2 separate regions of the Homo sapiens genome follow, and region 1 is linked to region 2. Evidence: fine-mapped expression QTL. A gene starts in region 2. The other region holds a variant in brackets. All regions are shown on one strand. Distances are from middle to middle. Region 1 overlaps ZMYM4 (zinc finger MYM-type containing 4). Region 2 holds the start of TFAP2E (transcription factor AP-2 epsilon).

Region 1 (8,327 bases), 160 kb before region 2:
ATGTATAGATACTGATTGCAGAAAATATAAACTAATTTGAAGTTACATTTACCTTTTTAGAAACCATTTTTGATCTGGTAGCATTGGTGTAGCTTTCACATATCATATCTGCTAACAGTGGACCTTTTTTGGTAGTTTGTATGTATACTGAACTGTTGTTAAGAGAGTTAAGTCCTCGTCCTTGAATTATCTTTGACCAGATGTCATCAGACAAGTCCATAATTCACTCCAGGTCTCAGGCTGAGGTGAATGAAGAGGTTCAATGTTATGCTTAGTAATATATGCACCTTTCTGTTGGGCTGCAGAGCACCTTTAACAGTAAGCTTAATGATCTCCAACAGGAGTTTGCAAACTATGGTCCATGGGCCAAATCTGGCCTGCTCCCTGTTTTGCAATCTATGAGCTAAAAATTGTTTTTACATTTTTAAATAGTTGGGGAAATTTTTTTAAGAATTCCTATTTCATCATGTGAAAATTATATTAAATTCATGGCTGGGTGTGGTGGCTCACACCTGTGGTCCCAGGTGTGACTTTGGAAGGCTGAGGCAGGAGGATCACTTGAGCCCAGGAGTTCAAGATCAGCCTGGGCAACAAGGTGAAACTCTGTCTCTACAAAAAATAAAAAAAATTAGCTGGGCATGGTGGTGGTGCCTTGTAGTCCCAGCTACTCAGGAGGATGAGGTGGGAGAAGCACCTGAGCCCAGGAGTTTGAGGCTGCAGTGAGCCCTGATCGTGCCACTGCACTCCAGCCTGGGTGACAGAGTAAGACCCTGTCTCAAAAAAAAGAAAAGAAAATTATATGACTATAAATAAATTTTACTGGCATATAGCTCTGCCTGTTTATGTGTTCTCTACAGCTCCTTAGTTTCTACAGCAACAGCGTTGTTCAGAGCCTATATGGCCTACACATCCCAAAATATTTACTTTCTGGCCCTTTATAAAGACAGCTTAACCCCTAATCTAAAATATCAATAGATTAAAACGGTTTCAGGAGACTCCACGAACGGTGTCTACTTGAGTGGAATCATCTGCCTTTTTCTTTGTGGTGCGTTTTCTGGTTTTCTGCATAAGGAAGAGGGGAAAGAGGAATAGTCAGTTTTTCTCTTTATATCTCCCTGTCTTAGAATTTGAGAGATTACTTAGTCTACTTTAGCAGGAGCTCAGTACTGTTTCTTGTACCCCTTCTTCTGTCTAGGTTACATGTTCTCTCGCATTGAGGAAGAGCATTTGTGGGAGTGCAAACAGCTGGGCGCTTACTCACCAATCGTCCTTTTAAACACCCTCCTTTTCTTCAATACCAAATACTTCCAACTAAAGAATGTTACTGAGCACTTGAAGCTTTCCTTTGCCCATGTGATGAGACGGACCAGGACTCTGAAGTACAGTACCAAGATGACATATCTGAGGTTCTTCCCACCTTTACAGAAGCAGGAGTCAGAACCAGGTACGGGATACTGTTTGTCAGATTTCTCTTTGAAGTCTTAGTAGTAGTACTAAAATAGAGAGTTACTGCAGAAAGGTAATTATAAATGCTAGACGTGAAAGAGTGTACCTTTAACATTTGAATATTTTTCTCTATTGTCAGAGAGTGGTCAAAGGCTGGCCTCAAAGTGAGAGGAATCACGTGCTTCAATATACTTTCATTGGCTTTTAAATTAGAAATTTTGATTTAATTGGGCAGAGCTCAAATAGCCTGCATTTTAAAACTTCTCAGGAAATTAAAAAATACAAACAGGGTTGAGAATCACTAATTTACTAGCCCCAGATGAGTCAATCACTAGTTAAACGAAACCTGCAGAACTTTTAGTCCATTGTTTCTAAATCTTTTTTTGACCAGAGCCCCTCTTTTTAGTTAACATTGTGAAATTCTGAAGGAACTTAAAAGCTGACCTACAATATACTGCTTTTGTACACAATAGAATAATAGCAGTGACAATTTTATTAGAAGGTTTATTGTCTTGCATTTCAAAAACAGCCTATTAAATAAGTTTGTTTTTAATGTTCAGAAACTTAATCTTGGTATTATAGGATTAGAAATTAAATTTATTATTTTTTGAATAGAATCATAAGTCCTGAACTTCCCAAAATCAGTTTCTGAGAGTGAAATACATTTTTTGAATGTGAGAATTTAAATCACTGAAACTAAAATCTGTATTTGTGATGTTCAACTTTGTATAAACTTTTTTCTGAATTGTTCATTTACTAAGATTATCTTTTTCACCTAATGTCTGTGTCCTGTTTGCTTAGTTTTATATATATGTAACCCACTTTGTGCTCTCAATTGATTTTTATTTATTTATTTATTTATTTTGAGATGAAGTCTCACTCTGTCACCCAGGTTGGAGTGCAGTGGTGTGATCTCAGCTCACTGCAGACTTCGCCTCCCAGGTTCAAGCAATTCTCCTGCCTCAGCCTCCCAAGTAGCTGGGACTACAGGCATGTGCTACCACGCCTGGCTAATTTTTGTATTTTTAATAGAGACGGGGTTTCACCATATTGGGCAAGCTGGTCTCGAACTCCTGACCTCAGGTGATCCACCCGCCTCGGCCTCTCAAAGTGCTGGGATTACAGGCGTGAGCCACCATGCCTGGCCTCAGTTGGTATTAACTGGGGGAGGGAAAGGCAGGTGGATAATGTTTCCCTGTTTGCTGATTGGGTGCTTGACATGATTAGTAGTGAATTCAGCTTGCTTTCTAAGTGAGTAACTAGCAAAGTCTTTCTATTTAGCTAGCTGCTAAATGGAAAATGGGTGAGTTTTGTTAAAGTAATAATGCAGGAAGCTGGGGAAAGTCCTATACCGGTTGTTAAGAGCAGATATAGGCTGAGTGCAATGGCTCATGCTTGTAATCCCAATATTTTGGGAGGCTCATGCGGGAGGATTGCTTGACCCCAGGAGTTTGAGGCTGTAGTGAGCTGTGATGGAGTCACTGCACTCTAGCCTGGGCAACAGAGTGAGACCCTGTCTCCCAAAAAAAAAAAAAAAAGAAAGAAAACCTTTTTTCCTTAGGTCCATCTAGTGTTCTCTTGAGGAGTGAATGGAAAAAGTGGGAAAGAAATAGCCCACTTTCCGTATCTTCACCCTGACTTCCTTATATAATGCTTGGCCTCTGCAAAATACTGTTGGGGAAAAATGGTTTGTTCTTTTCTTACCAAATAGTAACTCTGCTGATAATTTCTCTTCCCAACAAAGATGCCATTTCTCACAATATTCGAACAAATAAACTTGAGCAGATGCCCAGTACTAGTGCCCCACAGTAGAAATATTCTCATAGAGATGACAGCTTCTGCTGAGTTCAGTGGCTTGTACCTGTAGTCCCAGCTACTCCAAAGGCTGTGGCAAGAGGATCACTTGAACCCAGGAGTTCAAGGCTGCGGAGATTCAAGGCTGCTGTGATCACACCATCATGCTCCAGGCTGGGCAACAGAGTGAGACCCTGTCTCTTAAAAGAGAGATGGCGACCGGGCACGGTGGTTCATGCCTGTAATCCCAGCACTTTGGGAGGCCGAGGTGGGCTGATCACCTGAGGTCAGGAGTTCGAGACCAGACTGGCCAACATGGTGAAAACCTGTCTCTACTAAAAATACAAAAAAATTAGCTGGGCATGGTGGCAGGCGCCTGTAATCCCAGCTACTTGGGAGGCTGAGGCAGGAGAATCCTTGAACCTGGGTGGAGGCTGCAGTGAGCGGAGATTTCGCCGTTGCACTCCGTCCTGGGCAAGAAGAGCAAAGTTCCGTCTCAAAAAAAAAAAAAGAGATGGCAACTTCTGTCTTGATCTCTACTGTAGGAGAAAAACATGTGGAACCCTTCTTTCTGCTTTATCTTGATATGTCTCAGGAACCCTGTGCCTAATGAAGTTTATTAATAAAGTCAGGCTCAGAATAGAGACGTTTTCCAGTGCCAGTGCCATACTTTTTGTCATGGTGCCCCCACTTTGGTGAGCAGGGGAGCATAAAATTCATGGGATAGGGACTTTGTTTAATGCCATAGAATCCAGCACTTAAAATAATGTCTGGCACCTTCATAGGCACTCAGTATTTGTTGAATGAGTGTGAGTGAGTGAAAGGGAGGAAATGACAAAGTTCTGGCTGC[G/A]AAGCAAAGCTCATTGGTGTCTTGAGACTCAAAGAATAGACTTTTCTAATATAATCCTTTGATTATTATTTCCTGTCTCAAGATAAACTGACTGTTGGCAAGAGGAAACGAAATGAAGATGATGAGGTTCCAGTGGGGGTGGAGATGGCAGAGAATACTGACAATCCACTAAGATGCCCAGTCCGACTTTATGAGTTTTACCTGTCAAAATGGTAATCTTTCTCTGAACTGAATGTAGTGCACTCAGAAGGCAGTTAACATATTTTGGATTTCAGATGCTTGAACATCAGAAAAGTAGCTTGCCCGTGGCTTTAGACAAGGATTTACCATGAATTTTTTCCCCATTGTCATATCTATGTGGATTTTGAACCACAAAACAAATTACCTTGTCTTCATAATTATTTTATGAAAATGTCTTCAAAAGCAAGAATCACTGCTATTGTTTGATCTTTACAACTGTTGTACAACCTTTATGTGATACCTAATCTGTAGTTATTTTGTTATTTGTATAGAAAAGAAATTTTGTTTTGCTAAAGCTATAATAGAAAAACAATTTTTAAGGAATTGAAATTTTCTAAGTAGTCCTTTTCTTAGAGGAACTTTATGATTTTAGAGTTGTAACACTTTTTTTTCTGAAAGAAATGTAATAGCTTCATTTGCCCTTTGATAATGTGTATTGAGTGCCCTTGGAGTTCATTCCAGGATATTGGGCACTTCCAATATGTGGTGCTTGGCCATAGTGTCACATGTGAGTTGACTTTTTTGTTGCTCTTAATAATGTTTGAAGTACTAAAGTTTATGATTTACACTTTGTCTTATATTAACTTTATACTCACTTCCAATCCATTGTGATTTCAGTTGATTCCTGGGAGGAAATATTCCTGTAAACTATTTATCTCTGTGGGTACCTTGCTTTCCCCATTGTGAGTCACAGTGGAGAAAGGTTGAGAGCCATATTAGGTTGGTGCAAAAATAATTGCAGTTTTTGCCCTTACTTTTAATTACTTTTAATGGCAAAAACCTCAGTTTACTTAAGAATAGTACATATTTCCTATACTCTCTGATTTCTAATTTTCTTTTTTCTCTTTTTTTTTTTCCCCTGTGGATAGTTCTGAAAGTGTGAAGCAAAGGAATGATGTGTTTTACCTTCAACCTGAGCGCTCCTGTGTCCCGAATAGCCCCATGTGGTACTCCACATTCCCGATAGACCCTGGAACCCTGGACACCATGTTAACACGTATTCTCATGGTGAGGGAGGTACATGAAGAACTTGCCAAAGCCAAATCTGAAGACTCTGATGTTGAATTATCAGATTAAAACGGAAGTGAGGTTCTTATTTTCATACATATTGGTATGCACCAAACTGTGAATGCATCCAGCTGTTGGAAAATGATGTATAAGTCTAAGTCCTCTTGACTTGACCATAAGATCATGGAAAACAGATGACTTGTGAACCCCACAGTGTGGATGTGCAAATGAAAATTGAAGGAAAGAATATGAACTGAGAAATGTTCTTTGGCAGTGATATAGTTCTTAGACATCTTCAGAATGACTAATTTCTCCGAGTGGTGCATAATCTTATTTTGTTTGGGAGTAACAAATCGTGGAATATTTTTAAGGAAAACTGTTGTATAAAACTTTACCATAGTAACCTTAGACCTTAGAGAGGTAGCTTTGGAGTGAAACTTTGGCTGCAATAGGCTACTTTGGCAAGCCCTCCGTAAAAGTCAGAGGAGAGATCAGTACAGAGCTAAGAGTGACATCAAATGAGGACTGTGGGACCCAGATTTGAAGACCCAATAAAAATACTCAACTTTTTAAAAAAGATAGTGAAGTGGTCTTGATTGATTTTGATTTTCACTGCCAAGCCAATCATGTGAAGGACAGAAGCTTTTGCCATGGGCCCCTCACATCAGGGAAAATGACCTTCACTGCTGTTAACAGTAATGTGTCCCTTTCATTTTCTGGATCAAGCCTTCTCAGCGGTGGGTCTGGATGTGGGTAAACTAAGGTAAAGGGGATGATATTCCACAAACTAATTATGCACACAGAAAATCTGTGGAGCCTATCAGACCCCAAGTGTCTTGAAATGTTTGTAGAAACCCACTAAAATGCCCCTTCTCTGGGTGTGGGCCCTTATTGCAGCTGTCTCACAGCCTGAGCTGTGGTACAGAGAAATGGGGGTTCTCCTTTTATTTTCATTTTTTTTCCCCAATGGCAGCTTTTCTCCCGTTGTTTTACCTTCCTATTTCCCAAACAGTTCCTCTTATTTTGTCTTTTGCACCAGTTTCTGGAGGCCCTTGTCATTTCAAAAAGGATAGTCTCTTTTCTTACTCTGGCAAACCTGTGAGTGATTCCACAAAGATACAGTATTACTTAGCTATCTGAATTATGATAGAAAAGGTCCTAGTTAGGTTCCTATATAAAGCATTTGGAAGATGACCTTGTTGCCCTTGAAACTTGAAAATAGGGATTCTGGGGTGAGGATACAAAGACATTGTCTTGCATATCCATAAGCAGGTCTTAGAGCATTATTCCAAACTCTAGCTGTTTCAGTAGTTCTATGAGGATTGCAAGTCATAGGTGTGTGTGGCATATCAGTCCATCTCCCTCATCTCCATTCTCAGTTTCTTCCCCACAAAATTTGGAATCAAAGCTTTTATGACGTTTGCCAATTGCAGAACTTCTTCAGCTAAGGTTAATTTGACGCTATGATAAAACTGAGAGATGTCAAAAAGCCTCTTAGAAATTTTAATCTTGAAAGACTTTTCAGGGTATCTCATTTTTTAGGTGGGGGTGGCAGGTGTATTTCTTTTTTAACAAATAAAAGGCATTTAAGTAAAACTAAAATGAAAAAAGTAGGCCTTCTGACATTGTGTACTTGGTGGTTCTGTCCCTCTGCCTGTAACAAATCTCATTTTTGTTACCAAGAACTGTATGAAAGAAGTAAATCCACCCCGATTCTGTATGATTAATTCCATCTGTGTTTGTCATTTCTGACTGGAAAACTTCTTACTCCATACCTTGTTCGATATGGAGGACAAATAATTGGATTGTCTGATAAGTCTGCCAATAAACTATCCAGAAATAGCAAGTGTAATAGTCCCCACTATACGAATTTTATGGTTTGTATAAACACTAACATTTTCCCCTTCTGTAGTTGTATGAAAAAACAAATATTGTTAGCATAGTAGATAAATTGTTATGAAATACCAGAAAAAAAAATCTGTATCTTTTACTGAGAACACCCAATACCCAGATAAATGACTGTATCAGGATTTCATTTGCATGTTAGTCCACAGAGTTGCCCAGAACCCTAAATTTATTCATAAGAGAAAATATTGATTAATTATTGGTCATTCCTCATAAGTGTAGCTGTTGATGTGTGCGTCTGATTATTGCTTTTTTAATTTTATGAAAATTGTGTAAAATTACATTTTTTTTCCAGGGGAGAAAAAAACATCAAACAAAAACATCTAAATCATCCTTTTTGTTCTTTTTCAGTTTTTAACCACTTTTAGGTTTTCCCCTTACAGAAACCACAGAAATATTCCCTTAGAATAAAATAGTATATTTGTATTTGATGGGTGAGTTCTTCTTCTTTACGTCTTAAAAGAATTTGAAATCTCTTTTTCTGATTGACCTTATTGGTATGACCCAGCAATTAGTAAAATTACAAAGAAAGAGAGCAGTTTCCGAGAAAGAAATTTTTTTTATGTAGTCCAGTCAACATATTTTTTCATTGCAAGTTCTTTTATTTCCTTTTTTCCATCAAAAGACTTGTTCCCATTTTTAGCTAATTTACTGACTATATTCAAAGTCCCAACAGGTAGAAATATCAGAGATCATTTATACATATCATTTCAGGCAAACTTTTTTGAGATTTACAAAGCCTACATCAGTTCAACTTTAATGAAATTGTAAGACTAGAATAAAGGATATGTTCATTCTTAAGTATAAATACATGTTTAAAACAGGAATGTAAGACTAAATAGCATTTTCCTTCGACTTCAGAGTTGTCTTGGTATTATGCAGCTGTACTTTCAAATTCCGTATCGACTTTCTACCTACCTGCCTTGTGGCAATCCTAAATTTATAAAACAGGTTTTCCCAAAAGATCTAATGTAAAATGAATTTCTATTAATGAATTCAGAATTTAATTTTCCAAAGAAGTCTCCTAGGGTATTGAGTTGAAGTTTTAGGAAAGAAGCAATCATACCCTGAACTCCTCTAGACT
Region 2 (8,327 bases):
GAGTCCCTTGGCACTGAAAGAAGTAGTCCTGAGTCTGAAATCATGGGACTCTGATGTTTTAGGGAGACTCAAAGCAGCAGCAGACCATGGAGAACATCCCTCTCCCCAGTAGCCATAATCAAAATCACTCACTTATCAGATGATCTCTTCAGATTATACCTGGGTTCTATGTGTAGATACCCAGGATCATGTTCACATAGAGCCTTCCTAAAGGATCCCTTAATAGGCCAGTGGATTCATAACACCATCCATTGATGTGTTTATCATTTACAGTATTTAATAAGCATTCATTGAGTTCCTGCCATGCCCCAAGCACAGCGCTAGATACATTTTCTGTTTCTCCTTTAATCTTGTGAAGCAGTTCCTGAAAGAGGAAAAGTAAGTTAGTCACAACTGCAGAGTCTGGAATGCTCATTAGAATGTTTAAACTTTTTTTCCCCCGAAGATGGGTCATGGGGAGCCCTAGGAAAGTTTTCAGTAGGGAGGTAACATGGTCCAGTCACTCTTGTGGAAGTTGGAAATTGATCAGAAGAGATATGAATAAAGTCAGGAGACCAGTTAGAGAATTGTTGCAATGGCCTAGATAGTGGTTCTTAAACTTTAATGTGCCTCTGAGTCACCTTAAGGACTTATTAATAACACAGGTTGCTGGGCTCCACCCCCAGAGTTATTGACTCAGAAGGTCATGAGTGGGATCCAAGAATTGGGACTTCTAGCAAGCTCCCAGATATTGTTGGTGATGCTGGTCCAGGAACCACTCTTTGGCTGTGTTGCCCAGGCTGGTCTCAAACTCCTGGGCTCAAGGGACCACACTTTGAGAGCCACTGATCTATGAGTAAGAGTAAGGTAGTTTAAGGTGCTGAGACAGGGTGCCATGTGCCCTCTGGGATACCTGCCTCAATTCTCCACCACATACCTTCTGTGGGTGGATGTTTAAGGGTTAGAAATGGCAACACTCCATAAGGATTAGCTTGTGGGGGTTAAGGAAAGGACCTACGCTCTTCTGGGATGACTAGCAAGTTTTGAACTTGAAAAAGGGTGGTGTCATTTATGAAACTACAGAGCAAAGGAGAAGCAGGTTGGGGTTGGTGCTGGGGATAGAGGAGATGTTGAGTTCAGTGTTGGACTTGGAAAATTTCAGACAGCTGCAATGAGATGTCTGGAGAAAATACGCAGCTGGCAGCTGTGTCTATGGGTCTGGATCTCTCACTAGTGATTCAGGCCAGAGATAACACAGTTGGGAGATAACAGTAGACAGGTAGTCATTAAAGACTTGGGCCGGGCGTGGTGACTCATGCCTGTAATCCCAGCACTTTGGGAGGCTGAGGCGAGTGTTCACTTGAAGTCAGGAGTTCGAGATCAGCCTGGCTGACATGATGAAACCCTGTCTCTAGTAAAAATACAAAAGTTAGCCGGGCGTGGTGGTGGGCCCCTGTAATCCCAGTTACTCAGGAAACTGAGACATGAGAATCGCTTGAACCCGGGAGGTGGAGGTTGCAGTGAGCCGAGATTGTGCCACTGCACTCCAGCCCAAGCAACAGAGTGAGACTCTGTTATAAAAAAAAAAAAAAAAAAGACTTGAGAGGGGATGAGCTCACTCATGAAGAGTGCAGGAAGAAAAAGAAGCTTCTCTGCTCTGAGAAAGAATTACCGACATTAAGCATGTAGGTGAAAAGAGAAACAGAAAAGAAGACAGAAATGGTCGGAGTAGGACAATGAGGCAAAAAGGGGCTATCAAAGGTGTAGGAAGTAGATTGAGAAAACCCAAGGAAGCCACAGACAGGCAGCACATCCCGCCACTCTGGCCTTCCCAAGCTGCTGGAGAGAGCAGGGGCATCCCCGCAGCTGGGCACAGGCATCATCTCCTTTGCGGCTCCTAGACTTCTCCCAGAGGAGTTCATCAATTTCTATTCACGCACTGACACCTGTCCTGGAGCTTGACTTCTGATGCCCTGTGGCTGGGGTTGAGGGAGGGAGGAACAGGGCATTGCCACAGACTCCCTCATATATAGATACACACAAACACAATCCTGATCTCTGACCCATCTCGAGCAGGAAAGTTGCAAAGCTTCCCAATTCCGCTTCATCCTCTGGAACCTCGCTGGCGGTTCCAGACTTCAGAAAGTTCTTAATGATGAATCCTTGGCTTCTAGCCTCCTTCTTTCCCCACCACTCCCCAGGCTGAGATCATCCAGCCCTGAGCTCTGCACCTGCCATGTGCCTTCTGGGATACCCACTTGGAACCATATATTCCATGAGTTAATGGTGTCACTATCACCTCCTCTTCTATATCAATAATTTTACCTTAATCTTCTCATTTACTACTTCACTAAAAAGGGACCTAAAAAAACAACTAGTCTTCTCTGCCTTCCCCTACTTTTTTATTGGTGTTGTCGAAGTTGCAGAAACTGAGATCACAGAGGAAACGGGATGTAGCTAGGATCACACAGTTAGGCAGAGTCAGGACTAAATCCAAGCCCCTGAGTCTGAGGCAGTAGAGAATAGTGATTCTGAGCAGAGAGGGGCCAGGGGCAGATCACCCCAGCTCTGCCACTTAGCTGCTTGACCTTGGGCAAGCCATTTAACCTCTCCATGCCTCACCCCTCCCCTGAAAATGGGGATGATATGGGTATCTCTTTCATAGAGCTGCTGTGAGGGTTAAAGAACCCAATATTCGTGAAGCACTTTGCACAGAGGCTGGCACATTCTGTAATAAGTCTGCTGTGATTATTTCTACTTTGCCCTGGTCTGCACATCTTGCTTTTAAAAAACATCTTTCTTCTGCTTTCTTAATTCCTGTTCTCCTTAGCATTCCTCTCATTTGTCCATCTTTAATCCCTGTCTCTGCTTGTCAGGAGGGGAGGGTTGGGTTTGGGGAGAAAGAGAGAGTGACTACAGAGACTGGAACTTGCTTGACAGCCAGGGAGTGCCTGCCATGGTAACACAGGAACATGTAGCCTGCGCATGTTAGTGTAACAATCACACGGCATCCATGCTAGTCAGTTACACACAGTCACTCAACAGTCTCTGGGTATCTCATGCCCACACTCAATCAGCCCAGGACCCTGTGGCTTCAGAAATATCTTGGCCCCTTGTCAGGTGGAGCTCATACCCAAACCCATCCCAGGCAAGTCTCTCTCTCTGTCTGGCCAGCTTCTGTCTCCAACTCCCTCAGAGCCTGGCTTGGCTTGGAAGTTTTCAGCCCAGGAAGCCTGAGAGCGAAGTGGGCACCTTCGAGGGATTTTGATCCAGAACCATTCAGGAAAGACTGTGATGGTAGACCCCCTAAACACACGCACTGACACTGTGTGCGCATGAGCAGATAGGCTGGAGTCTTCAGCTCACAAACTTCTTCCACGTTCCCGATTACCCACCTCATCCAAAGTCTCTTGAGGTGCTTAGAGAAAGGATTGATACCTATTTTACCGAGGAAGCTGAGGCCAGCGAAGAATAGTGCTTTGCTTAAAGGCAAGGATGTGATAGAGCCAGGCAAATGTAGGGCCCTTGCGTCCCAGCCTCGAATATTTCTGTTTCACTGCAGCTGCGAGCTGCGAGCCCAGAAGGCGGCTCTGATCAATGTGGGCTGAATTCACGCCCCCTACCCACCCTACCCGATCCCGCCAAAGCCACTGCCTCCCCTGTGGCAGCCGCTGGGGAAAAGGGAGAGAACTGCCATAGCTTGTCTCTTTAATGCGCGCCCCCGGAGGCCCGGCGCGCCCCCGCCACTATAACTGGAGTGCATGGAGCAGGCTACGCTCAGAGGAGGAAGGGCGGGCGCTGGGCACCCGTTGACCGACTTTTCCAAGTGCGATCAGTGCCCGTCCGTCCTGCCTCCATGGACCCGCCCGGGAACGGCCACCGCTGAGGACCCCACGCCCACTAGGATCCCGGCTGGGTCGCACCCAGCTACCGCACCGTGACCTCCGCGGGCTGTGCCGGCTCCCGGCGCCTCTGCCCGCAGCGCTCGCCGTCGGGCTAGGGCTCCGCCGCCGCCACGCCTCGCGCCCGGCACTCACCGCCCCATGCTGGTGCACACCTACTCCGCCATGGTGAGTAGTCTCGGGCCCGGGACATATTCGGCCGGGGGATCGGGGCGCCTGAGTGCTGGACTTTCCAACCCTCCTGTCCCGCGCTAACGAAATCTCGGAGGGAGGGGGCCGCAGGGACTTCGCCAGCTGAGAACGCGATGCGCAAGTGACCGCTGTCCCCAGCCTGAGGCTCCTGCGCCCGCGGGTGGCTCGGAAATAAACCTCGGGCCCCAAGAAACGGGAGGGACTGCAGCTGAACCCTCCCGAGCTGAGGAGGATCCTTTCAGGCTGGGGTCCTTTCAGCTGCCAGTGGGTCACCTAAGGCACCCCTCTCCTTCCCCAGGAGCGCCCCGACGGGCTGGGAGCAGCTGCCGGCGGGGCCCGCCTGTCGTCTCTGCCCCAGGCGGCCTACGGGCCGGCGCCCCCGCTCTGCCACACGCCGGCCGCCACAGCTGCCGCCGAATTCCAGCCGCCCTACTTCCCGCCGCCCTACCCGCAGCCACCGCTGCCCTACGGTCAGGCGCCCGACGCCGCCGCAGCCTTTCCCCACCTGGCAGGGGACCCATATGGCGGCCTGGCGCCCCTGGCGCAGCCGCAGCCTCCTCAGGCCGCCTGGGCCGCGCCCCGCGCAGCCGCCCGCGCCCACGAGGAGCCTCCCGGCCTGCTGGCACCGCCCGCCCGCGCCCTGGGCCTTGACCCGCGCCGTGACTATGCCACTGCCGTGCCCCGGCTCCTGCACGGCCTGGCCGACGGCGCGCACGGCCTGGCAGACGCACCTCTCGGCCTTCCGGGGCTGGCGGCGGCCCCCGGTCTGGAGGACCTGCAGGTGAGACCCGAGGGATCCGGGATGGGTCGGGACTGGCCGCGGTGGTTTACTACCATGGCTGGAGGCAGAAGGTGACAAATGCAGGAAGCCGACTTTTCTCCCAGCTCGCCACATCTCACTGGTGACTCCGAGGATGTGTCCCACCTCCTGGGTTAGACGTTGCCTGGCCATCAAGGCTGCCTGGCACTGAGTCCGCCAGCAGTGCGTGGGTGGCAGCAACCCTCGGCAGGGACCGAATCACTTCTTTTCTCCCCGCTGCCACGTGTGGCATCCATGGGGCAGCCTGCACCTGGGGCGAAGAGAAGCATAATAGTTACCAGTGTAAGATTCAAAATTCCCTTTTTGCACTGCACAGTGAGATGCCCAGGGCTCCAGCTCAGTGCCTGGACATAGCGATTCCTGGGCCTGCCCGTCGCCGCCCCAAGCGAAGCTGGTGCGCCTTGGGCGGAGCAGACAGAGACCCTGGGTGGCAGGGGCTTGGGAAGACATGGGCGGCTAGGGCTTTATGCGCCCTCACCGCTGCCCTCTGCTATTTGCAGGCAATGGACGAGCCGGGAATGAGCCTCCTAGACCAGTCCGTGATCAAGAAAGGTAAGGAATGGTCTGTCAGGGCAGAGCCCGGCGAGATGGTGCAGGCCCTTGGTGCACAGATCCATTTTCTTCACCGGCCGTGCCTCCTGTGTGTCGCCAGGCTGGGTGTCCACCAGGCACTCTTCCTGGCCCAGCCAGATGTTAGGCAGACGTGCGGGCTTGGTGAGTTTGCCCAGCACCCTGTGGCCTGGGGTGGGCCTCAGCGGATCAGCATTCACTGGGCTGCAGCACTGGGAGCCTGGCCTCTCCCCGCCGAGGGGGAGGGCACTCTTGTGGATCTGGAGTTGATTTGCAGAACGAGTTAAACCACTTCCCTGTTTCCCTAAGAGATGGGAATGGAAGTGCTGTTCCCACGGAGTTGGGGAAATGATTTTCACTTTACAGTGCCTTAGCATTTCGGTGCCTGGCGGGCACTTTCTTCCTCTTCCTTCCAGGCAGGGCCTTGGAGGCCTCTGGGGGAATTTTCTTTCTGTGGGAGTCTCTTGCGGCATTTAGACTTAGGGGAGCTTGTGTGTGAGTACTGTGTGTTAGGCTGTGTGCACCTGAGTCAGGGCCCACCTGCTCCTGGGTGTCTGTGTCCATGTGAGTTCAGGGTCCTGTGCATGTCTGAAATGTTCCCTTCATGGGTGTCTTAGTATTTCTTGGAGTGTGAGTGTGTCTGTTTCTGTGAATGTGTTTGTGAGGTGTGTCTCTGTATGTTGGTGTGCATTTCTCTGCATTTGGGGGATGTACACATTTCTCAATATGTACAGTATCTCTGTTGTGTCCTGCACTTTGTTCTTTGGTATCTGAGGATTTCCAAGCATGCGCGGGCCCTCTCTGTGTATATATAGGAGTATTTATGTGACTCCTGGCATTAGTAAAATCCAGGGACACGGGATCCACCTTTTCTGGCCTGAGGACCAAGTACTGGCCATGACAGGGGAAGGTGAGAGACGACAAAAACAGAGAGACAGCCAGAGAGGAGCAGAGAGTCAGAGGGGCCCAGGCATTGGGTAGCAGCCTCTTTACATTTGGGGCAGGTGCCCGAAAGAATTCAGAGGTGCACATGAGCCTGAGGTGCCCCAGGCAGGCACTGCTCCCACAGGGTTTGGCTTGAGTTGTTTTTCAAACGAGTGAATTCAAGCCTGGGCTCTATTTGCCCTCCACTTGTTCTCAGGGGAGGCCAAGGTGGAAGTGGTGGTAGCAGGGCTGGGGCTGGACTTCCAGGAGCTGGGGCTGAGTTACCAGGAGCTGGGGGTTGGGTGGATGACTTGGAGTGTGTAGCAGGGAAGATGAGGCAACAGGGCAGGAAGTGGGTGGGGGGAGGTGGAATTGGGGCTGTGTCCTGTGTCGCTTGGAACTGGGAGTGTGGGAAAGACACTAGGAACCTGGTTGCAGCGCAGCTCTGCTGGTGGGGCTTGGTTGGCTTACTGTACAGAGCCTTTCTTGACCCCTGAAGAAAGAGATCCGTCTGCAGTGGGCAAAAGCCTGCCTGGACTTCCTGGCCACCAGAAATATGAGCATGGTGGTGGTCCCCAGTTCCCTATTCATGCTTGGGCTCAAGAGACTGGGAGTCTAGGTTCACTGACTCCCTGAGAAAGACTAAGACCCTGCATTTTAGAAAGAGGTTTGGGGATCTCTGCCCTGCGCAAGGGTAGAAGGATCAGCTGTTCCTCTGAGCACCTTAACCCGGAACCCCGGTCCGAAGCCGAGACAGGAGACTGGATGCGAGGCCCTCCCAGAGCTGGTTTCTCTCAAACAACTTCCAAAACTCCTAGATCCTAGGGGTACGCCGAAATCCCCCAAAGCAGTCCAAAGAACACAACGAGAGTCCTAACATCCCAGGTGGCGGCGCGCTGGCTCCCTGGAGCGGGGCGGGACGCGGCCGCGCGGACTCACGTGCACAACCGCGCGGGACGGGGCCACGCGGACTCACGTGCACAACCGCGGGACCCCAGCGCCAGCGGGACCCCAGCGCCAGCGGGACCCCAGCGCCAGCGGGACCCCAGCGCCAGCGGGACCCCAGCGCCAGCGGGACCCCAGCGCCAGCGGGACCCCAGCGCCAGCGGGTCTGTGGCCCAGTGGAGCGAGTGGAGCGCTGGCGACCTGAGCGGAGACTGCGCCCTGGACGCCCCAGCCTAGACGTCAAGTTACAGCCCGCGCAGCAGCAGCAAAGGGGAAGGGGCAGGAGCCGGGCACAGTTGGATCCGGAGGTCGTGACCCAGGGGAAAGCGTGGGCGGTCGACCCAGGGCAGCTGCGGCGGCGAGGCAGGTGGGCTCCTTGCTCCCTGGAGCCGCCCCTCCCCACACCTGCCCTCGGCGCCCCCAGCAGTTTTCACCTTGGCCCTCCGCGGTCACTGCGGGATTCGGCGTTGCCGCCAGCCCAGTGGGGAGTGAATTAGCGCCCTCCTTCGTCCTCGGCCCTTCCGACGGCACGAGGAACTCCTGTCCTGCCCCACAGACCTTCGGCCTCCGCCGAGTGCGGTACTGGAGCCTGCCCCGCCAGGGCCCTGGAATCAGAGAAAGTCGCTCTTTGGCCACCTGAAGCGTCGGATCCCTACAGTGCCTCCCAGCCTGGGCGGGAGCGGCGGCTGCGTCGCTGAAGGTTGGGGTCCTTGGTGCGAAAGGGAGGCAGCTGCAGCCTCAGCCCCACCCCAGAAGCGGCCTTCGCATCGCTGCGGTGGGCGTTCTCGGGCTTCGACTTCGCCAGCGCCGCGGGGCAGAGGCACCTGGAGCTCGCAGGGCCCAGACCTGGGTTGGAAAAGCTTCGCTGACTGCAGGCAAGCGTCCGGGAGGGGCGGCCAGGCGAAGCCCCGGCGCTTTACCACACACTTCCGGGTCCCATGCCAGTTGCATCCGCGGTATTGGGCAGGAAATGGCAGGGCTGAGGCCGACCCTAG

The links.
Region 1: its variant is fine-mapped to the expression of TFAP2E in stomach (GTEx, PIP 0.99).

What each region holds. Positions count from the first base shown.
Region 1 is chr1:35,414,271-35,422,597 of GRCh38, forward strand. ZMYM4 (zinc finger MYM-type containing 4) reads left to right here. Exons shown (of 30, transcript NM_005095.3): 28 at 1,196-1,444; 29 at 4,173-4,302; 30 at 5,200-7,788. The coding sequence ends at 5,407. Among named protein-coding and RNA genes, the nearest start is that of ZMYM4-AS1, 52 kb to the left of the region's middle. The variant G/A (reference allele first, on the strand shown) is at 4,091.
Region 2 is chr1:35,569,556-35,577,882 of GRCh38, forward strand. It overlaps TFAP2E (transcription factor AP-2 epsilon), which reads left to right and starts at 3,759. Exons shown (of 7, transcript NM_178548.4): 1 at 3,759-4,049; 2 at 4,372-4,854; 3 at 5,394-5,445. The coding sequence starts at 4,023. TFAP2E-AS1 (TFAP2E antisense RNA 1) reads right to left here and starts at 8,307. Exons shown (of 3, transcript NR_183387.1): 1 at 7,111-8,307; 2 at 4,805-5,143; 3 at 256-364. RefSeq lists a silencer at 662-763 and enhancers at 3,723-4,222, 4,464-5,210, 6,908-7,760, 7,761-8,327, 7,866-7,955 and 2 more.